Linked DNA regions of Homo sapiens. The protein of the gene in region 1 interacts with the protein of each later gene in a pairwise test. Each region holds a gene or a part of one and is shown on either strand. Other genes may lie near its edges.

The links.
Region 2: the proteins of B3GALT2 (region 1) and SNX22 interact in a two-hybrid assay, tested with the Homo sapiens proteins (one large-scale study listed by BioGRID and IntAct).

What each region holds. Positions count from the first base shown.
Region 1 is NC_000001.11:193,178,161-193,181,167, forward strand, and holds the end of B3GALT2 (beta-1,3-galactosyltransferase 2), read right to left. Parts: coding exon 2,134-3,007; 3' UTR 570-2,133; downstream 1-569. UniProt on the Homo sapiens protein: Beta-1,3-galactosyltransferase that transfers galactose from UDP-galactose to substrates with a terminal beta-N-acetylglucosamine (beta-GlcNAc) residue. Can also utilize substrates with a terminal galactose residue, albeit with lower efficiency.
Region 2 is NC_000015.10:64,150,063-64,154,530, reverse strand, and holds the start of SNX22 (sorting nexin-22), read right to left. Parts: upstream 2,801-4,468; 5' UTR 2,756-2,800; coding exon 2,681-2,755; intron 2,289-2,680; coding exon 2,205-2,288; intron 1,894-2,204; coding exon 1,789-1,893; intron 1,287-1,788; coding exon 1,192-1,286; exon of another isoform or gene 1,145-1,191; intron 880-1,144; coding exon 847-879; intron 597-846; coding exon 529-596; coding exon of another isoform or gene 380-528; exon of another isoform or gene 151-379; intron 145-150; coding exon 23-144; 3' UTR 1-22. UniProt on the Homo sapiens protein: May be involved in several stages of intracellular trafficking. Interacts with membranes containing phosphatidylinositol 3-phosphate (PtdIns(3P)).

The DNA.
Region 1 (3,007 bases):
AATAGAATATTTATTTTAAAGTAAGGATTTTCAACAGTACAAAGACACTTTACTGTTTGATCCAGTCGCCTTTGAGAGCTCACAGTGTCTGATATCAGATTACTATCGTTTTTCAAGATAATGTTAGGAATATAGAAATTTACATAGATTTTATAAATTTTATAGATTTTAAATTGAAACTTGAGATAGGAAGAATTTAGGTGTCTGTTATCTGTTTTTCATGAGTCATTTTTTAAAAAACTTTTTCCAGATGGAAATTACTATCTTTTAAAGATCCTGCAAAATAGTCATAATTTGGACAAATAGAACTTGAGTTCTCTTTCTATGTACACACCTGTGTATGCACACACACACACTGTTTTTAAAACTTTTGAAGCATAAATCAGCATTATTCTACACTGAGGGAAGGATTCCTTTTGTCTTCTGTCAAACATGCTGATCTGATTTGGTATTATCCCCTTATGTGTGACTTTTATTAAGTAATTCTGGTATTTCTGTAGTCATATAGAATAAATTAAGTGAAAGACAGGCTTGATCCAAGAGCTGGGGTGTGTTACATAGATCAGCTCTCAGAATCACTTGATTTAGAGTAGAACACTTAGGCTACTGATTTGAAATGGAGATAAGCACTTAAACAGTTTTAGTGTTTTCAAGTTTCACAAATGTTACAATTCTCTTCTGGTGATTTATCCCTTAATAATAGAATAAGAGGTAAAAATGATTGTTATTAGAATTAAGAAACATTCTGACTAAATTAAGATTGACAGATTTACATACTTGTATGGAATAAAAACACTATTTTAGTTAGTAGGTTGGTATTTCTTGATTTTAAAATTCATGATGGAGTCAAACAAAATTATTGTGAAAATACTTATAACACTCAGTAAAGTTTTTTGTTTTCCTTTATTTTTAAAAACTTCATAAAAGTGCATTGTATACATTGTTCATCCTAGAATTGTGTTTGTCAAACGTTTGTAGTTTTCCCCATCCCTCCCAAAAAGGTTTTTAATTGGTGATTCAGAATATTTGTCATCTACCAAATTAAAAACTGCAGGTTTGCAAACTTGGCACTCCAAGAAAGAAATAGGTGCCATAAAATGATTAAGTGTTGGCATGTGTACACCTGCTGTCAGGAAATAAACTTCCCGTATGTTGCATTTTGGCAGACATGCATCTTAAAAATGTGTTGAATGAAACTGCACCTGCACTCTTTATCTTTTTCAACAGTACATCCTATTTGTGCCTTTAAGTGATTACTTTTGCTTCGATTATCTTTACAGATATATTCGAAGTTAGATATACATGAAATTAAATGGTGGTGCTGTTTAAGAGTGCAGTAATTGGTCTAATCCAATAACTCATTGAAATAGGAGTTTGGTTCTTAACATCAATGAGGAAACAAAACTTGTCTATTTTGAAACATTTAATAACTATAAAAACTTGAGCCTGAGACACATTAGTTTTTCACATTTTACCACGTCATGTCAAAATAATTTTCCCCCATATATTAATAAAAGAAAGTATTAATAAAAGAAATTTAAAATAATATCTCAGTTATTTTTAAAAAGTAAATACTTTCGTGAGAACTGCATTGATGAAACATCTGAACTTTATAATGTGTTTGTGGAATAACTCAACTAAATCTTATTGCATTTAGAACCCTAAAATAGGTCAAAAAATTTATCCTTTGCACAATTAAAAAGTTTCCTTAAAATTGATAGTGATGTTTTATTTACATTAAATTATATATTAAAATGAAAAGCTTAATCTAAAATGAAGGATCTTTTGACTGTCATTTCTTGAATTAAAATTTATGTGGAAAACATATGCAGATACATTTTATTGGCCCCTAACAGAAGACTTGAACCATTGATTTATGCATGCTTGTTATTGCATGTTAATACACAGAATCTCCTTATACAGTTTTTTAAATAGATTGTTTTGGGAAACCTTTTTTGTTATATAATGTTATAGTTTTAAGAATTAACTTCTTCAGAAATTAAAAAAATACTTCTTGAATTTCTTTATGTGATGAGTTTTAACTAAAACTTGTCCTACGGATGTAATCAGTTCTAACTATACATGCTTTTAGCAATATTTACAAATTGCACATTTGAAAAAAAATTGTCTTTTCTAATGTAGTTTACGGTGGCGATACCTGCCTGCCTTTTCTTTTGCTGCGTTGGCACAGGCATTGTGCTTATTTTGTTGTAAATGGTTCCAGTATTTTATCAGTTCACTAGGCTGGAACTGATGAGAGGTAATTAGGTGGCTGTATTTACAGCTCGAATAAGAGACTCGCCAGTGATTGAACACAAACTCATTGGGAGGGGGTACAGGATCAATTCTCAACTTGGCAAGACAGATCCCTACATATACATCTTCCAAGTGCAAACGGCGGATACCTAAAGAAACTTTAAAAATCTTTTCTGCCAGATCTCCAGAAAAAACATAACCAGTTCCAGAACAGAAGACAGGATAACGCTCACTTGGGTAGAGGTCTGGTGGCATGTACCACTTGCTATCTTTGTTTCGATTGGGTGCATATCCTCGCATTAGGTAACCAGTGAAATAGTTATGTCTGGGAGGCAGATCTGGCTTCAGTAACTTATTGATTAAATATTCAGTGTTGACAAACATGTCACTGTCAGTTTTCATAACATATGGAATATGTGGACAGTATGTTGCAACCCAGTTCATGCCCATTAGTGTTTTAATGGTCAAATTATAGTACGTATCTAAGTATTCCTGTTGAATTATATCATGATATTGTCTGCTTTCTTCCAGTATTGCACGTTGAAGGTAGCCATTTAGCTTAATACTTAAGCCCAACAAAAATATTCTTGTGATTTGAATACCAGGTGCTAGACTTTCATTGCCCCAAGTTTGCCGAATAGCTCTTCTAGCTTCTATTTGTCCAGGCTCTGCAGCTATTAGTAGTATTAAAAAAGGACTTTTCTCTTGGCATTTTTCAGGCTCATTAATAATATATTTGAAATGGTAAGAA
Region 2 (4,468 bases), on another chromosome or scaffold:
CAGCCAAAGGCCTCTGGACTGATCAGGGCATCGGTGGCAGAGGAGCAGGGTGACAGGCCGCCTTTGGCTGGGCTTTATCTGGGCTGATGCTGAAGCTGTAGAGGCCCTGGAGCACACCATTCACCACCACGTTGGGCAGCGACTCTGTGGGATAGAATTAAACAGGTCTGGCCTCAGACCTGCAGCTCCTTGAGCTCCTGCTCATGGGCTCAGCCCCCACTTGGGAGTAGGAGCCCCTGCCAAGGCAGCAGACAGCAGCTGTCCACCCCAAATGAAGCCTCCGCATTCCCAGGTCACATTCTTTTCACATCAGCTTGGTAAAGAAGTCAGGCTGCTGAAGAAATGGAGACCAGGGAAGCCAAACTTGTTTTCCTTGTGTCTACAAAGCAGGCTCCAGGGGACAGGAGCAGGAGGTAGTGGCTCCAGAGGTGGGCAGCAGGAAGGAGATGCTGTCTGAGGGTCCCAGGAGCCGAGAAATGCAAAGCCCACAACCCAGCCCTGTAGCCCCATATCTAGGCACCTCCTCACCTGGGGAGGGGTTGCAAACATAGGGATCCACATGGAAGCTCAGGACAGGCCGCTGGTGCTGCTGGGAGCTGGGAGGAAACAGGGTCATGAACCATGGGTGCGGGAGGCAGGGCAGAATCCCACAGAGGGGTGGAGACGGGGTTGCCATCACCAGGGACCCATGAAGGAAAAGGTGAGTGGGAAATGGGCTCAGGAGGCACCAAAGGGAAAACAGACTTCAGGGCCCAGGCCAGACAGGCCCAGGCAGCAGGCCTGCCTCCTAGCATATGGCCACTAGGGGGCAGCAGGGGCCAAGCGCGGGCTAGGGCTTTGACTTGCCTGCTGTCGCCAGGCAGGAACTCCCTCAGGGTGCTGAAGAGAAGAGAAACACTGTAAGCTGCCTGGGGATGCCGGGGGAGCGTGAGGAAGGGGTGGAGACACCAGAGCCCAGAACTGCACCTCCCAGGGGACCACTGCTTCTATTTGTAACAAGCCCCAGTTCCGGAGGTGGCGGGGGTAACCAAGTCTGTCCAAAAAAAAGCCCCTCCACCCAGGTCAAGAGAGCTGGTGAGGGCGGTCATGCTGGATCCTGGCAGATGTGAAAAGAAAGGGCTTGCCCTCCAACACCTTTCCTCACCTGCTCACTGCTGACAGCCCCTGGCCCCCGCCATCGGCCCCCCTTACCCCCAGTTGCTAGCCTTGGGGTCTGTGGGGAAGTGCCGAAGTCTCAGGAATTCCAGTAACTCCTTGGGCACCTCCTGGTTCAGGTACAGGATGCCCTGGAGAGGACAGAGGAGACCTGCAATCAGACCCAGCTACTAATTTGCATAGCGCAGTGCCAGTGAAAATGCAGGGCTCTTTGTTCCAAAAAAAGAATTTCACGACAATGACAGCAGAGCGTTGAACCAGGCTCAGGGCCCTTCTGGGCGCTGGGCGCTGTGTGCACAGGTTGTACCCCATGACGCGGCATAGCTTTGCTGTTGGGGGAAGGACCCTCACCCTACATGCCATCAGGAGGGCAGCACAGGACCTCACCATGGAGGGGACAGGACCTGGGTTTCATGGAGCTGGGACTACCTGTGTCCGTTACCTCTTTCAGTCCTTTCAACAAGCCAGAGGGGGGTGTTTGGACCTATATTAGACTCAGAAAATTGATGCTTGAGGTGGTGAATAACATCCCCAAGTTGTGGGTTCCCTCCCTGCCATGCCCCCACACCTCTCTGTCTGGGCCACACCCCTGGCACAGAAGGCCGGGGGGCAACCAACTGTGCTCTCGCATACCTGGATGTAAGCCTCCAAGCCCTGCCGGCGCTGTTCCAACCCTCTGGTCCTCCAGTTGGGCAGGCGTTTCGAGGGGAAGTCGGGCACTTTGTACAGCTTCTTGATCTACTGGAGGTTTACCGCGTGCGATCACAGCATCCCGACTGAGCCCTCAAGCCCTCTTCGCCCCAGCCAGAAGCCCTCCCGCGCCCCCGCCTTCGGGCTCTACTGGGACAGACCCTGGTGAGTGGTGGACCGGCCGAGGGCGAGGAAGGCCCCAACCCACCCACAGAGGCCCGGGGGCTGACCGGCTGCGCAGGGACTGAGGCAGTAATGGGGGTGGCGGAGGCTGGGGCTCGCCCGCCCGCCTCACAGGGCCTGGGCGGGGGCTGGACAGAGGCTGGGCCGGGGCCGGTGGGAGGTCGGCGCCGCCTCACCCGCTTGTGCAGCGCGTGGAACTCGCTGTAGCGCCTTGGCACCGTGTGTCTGCGCCCGCTGCACAGCACCTCCACTCGGAACACCTGGCGGCGCGGGCGGGCAGCGGGTCTGCGCGTGAGGCCCCGCGGGAGGACGCCGCAGCACCTGCGCCTGGCGACGTGCCCACCCTCCCGCTCTCAAAGGCACAAAGCGGCCTTGCGGCGCCGCGGCTGCCCGGGGACTCTCCGCTCCCGCACACCTGGGAGAACCGGCTGGCGGACCTGCCCCTCGGAGCCCTGGGGTCCCTCAAGAGCTCGAACCATGGTCCGCGAGGCTGGCAAATCCAAGCGGCCCCCAAACCCTCGACAAGGTTTCCCCCGACGGTCCAGCCCGCAGCGCTCGTTCACCCAGGCCCGGGCCCCGGGTCCCCACTGAGCGCAGCGCGGGGAAATCCTGCGGGTCCCGGCGCCCCTCCCCATCCAGGGGCCGCGCTCACCATGTGGCTTTTCTCCGGGCTCTGCCTGGGCCCCTCGGCCTCGGGCCCCACCGACGGGATGTGAACTTCCAGCATCCGCGCCCCGGCCCCAGCTGCTCCGCGCGCTCGGCTCGGAGCCCTAACTCTCCCGGAGCGGACTGAGGACCCCGGGGCGGCCGGCTCCGCCCCCTCGGTCCGCAGGCCCCACCCCAGGCCCCGCCCCCAGGCGACCCCGCCCCGGGCGTTCCCTTGCGCCGCGGGTCCTGAGCCTAGAAGATTAGGCGGGACCTGGACGCCGCCCCCGAAGTCTAGTGCGCCCACAGCGCGGGGCAGTGGAGTCAACCGTTTGTCAAACATTGACGGAGCACTCACTGATGCCAGGAACTGGCGAGCGAAAATGTCACCCAACCTGAGTTAAGCGCCTACCAAGGACGGCCTGTGGCTCCAGGCGCGGACGGAGGCGGGGCCCGGGCCTCAGCGCCGGTCCTGGGGCCAACCAGGGACCTGTCTTGGGTTCCTCAGTCCCTTCCCGAGCCTTTCCCTCCTTTCAGCCTGGTCCCTGAAATTGTGATCTGGATTCCCCGGCTGAGGCCACACCTGAGCAAGGCTTGGACCCAGTCCAGCTTTGATGCCCCTTTCCCCAGCATCCACAGGCCCCCCCATTCATTCATTGTTTTCATCCATCCATTCACTCATATCTTCCAACCCTAAGGGGCTCCAGGCTGTTTGTGGGGAAGAGGCAGTTTAGGGACCTAGACTCCGATTTGGACGTCAGACTGCCTGGATTTCAGGAGCTCCGTAGACCTTTGCTCATCTGCAAAATAGGGATAACGTGGCTCCTTCAGGCAAGTGTATAAAGTGAGATGATTTGGCCGGGCGCGGTGGCTCACGCCTGTAATCCCAGCACTTTGGGAGGCCGAGGTAGGCGGATCACCTGAGGTCAGGAGTTCGAGACCAGCCTGACCAACATGGTGAAACCCCGTACCTACTAAAAATACAAAAATCAACCAGGTGTGGTGGCACATGCCTGTAATCCCAGCTACTCAGGAGGCTGAGGCGGGAGAATCACTTGAACCTGAGAGGCGGAGGTTGCAGTGAGCCGAGATCAAACCATTGCACTCCAGACTGGGCAACAGCAAGACTCTGTCTTAAAAAAAAAAAAAAGTGAGATGATTCATGTTAGGCCCTTAACAGAAGCATTGAGCAGCAGCTTGACTGTGGGCTTCTCCTGGATGACTAGGATAAGTGGGCACAGGGCAGTGGATGGGAAGAGAGACTTTGGGGGGTGGCACCGGGTTGCTCTTGTCCACCCCTCCGGGCAGGTTCTTCCTGGATATGTGGCAGGATTTTGATCCAGAACTCTCTCAGGCCATGTGCTGGAAAGGACCTCTGCTCCCACCTCTCAGCCCTGCACCCTTCAGCTGTCGGAGAGCTGCTATCAGCAGCACCATGGCAGGTCCTCTACTCCACTGACTTCCCCCACAAAGGCCCCGTGACATGCAGAGAGGCGAGGCCCTGCCTTCCAAAGCTCATACGTAGTGGGAGGTCTTGGGGTGGGCAGGAGGAAGCAGAGTGCCTGTCTTCGGGGCTGGGGTTGAGGGGACTCACCCCTCCCCTGCTTCTGCAGAGACGCCTCTGAGCTGGAGCAAAAAACCTCCATCCCCAGCCCTGCCCCCAGAGAAGGGCTGAGATGACGACCCCAAAATGGGGCAAACAGGTCTCACCAATATCATGTCCCACATTCTCTTTTTCCAAATTGCATCACACAAGGACCACAGAATCAGGAAGCTGAAACTTCCCAGATTCTAG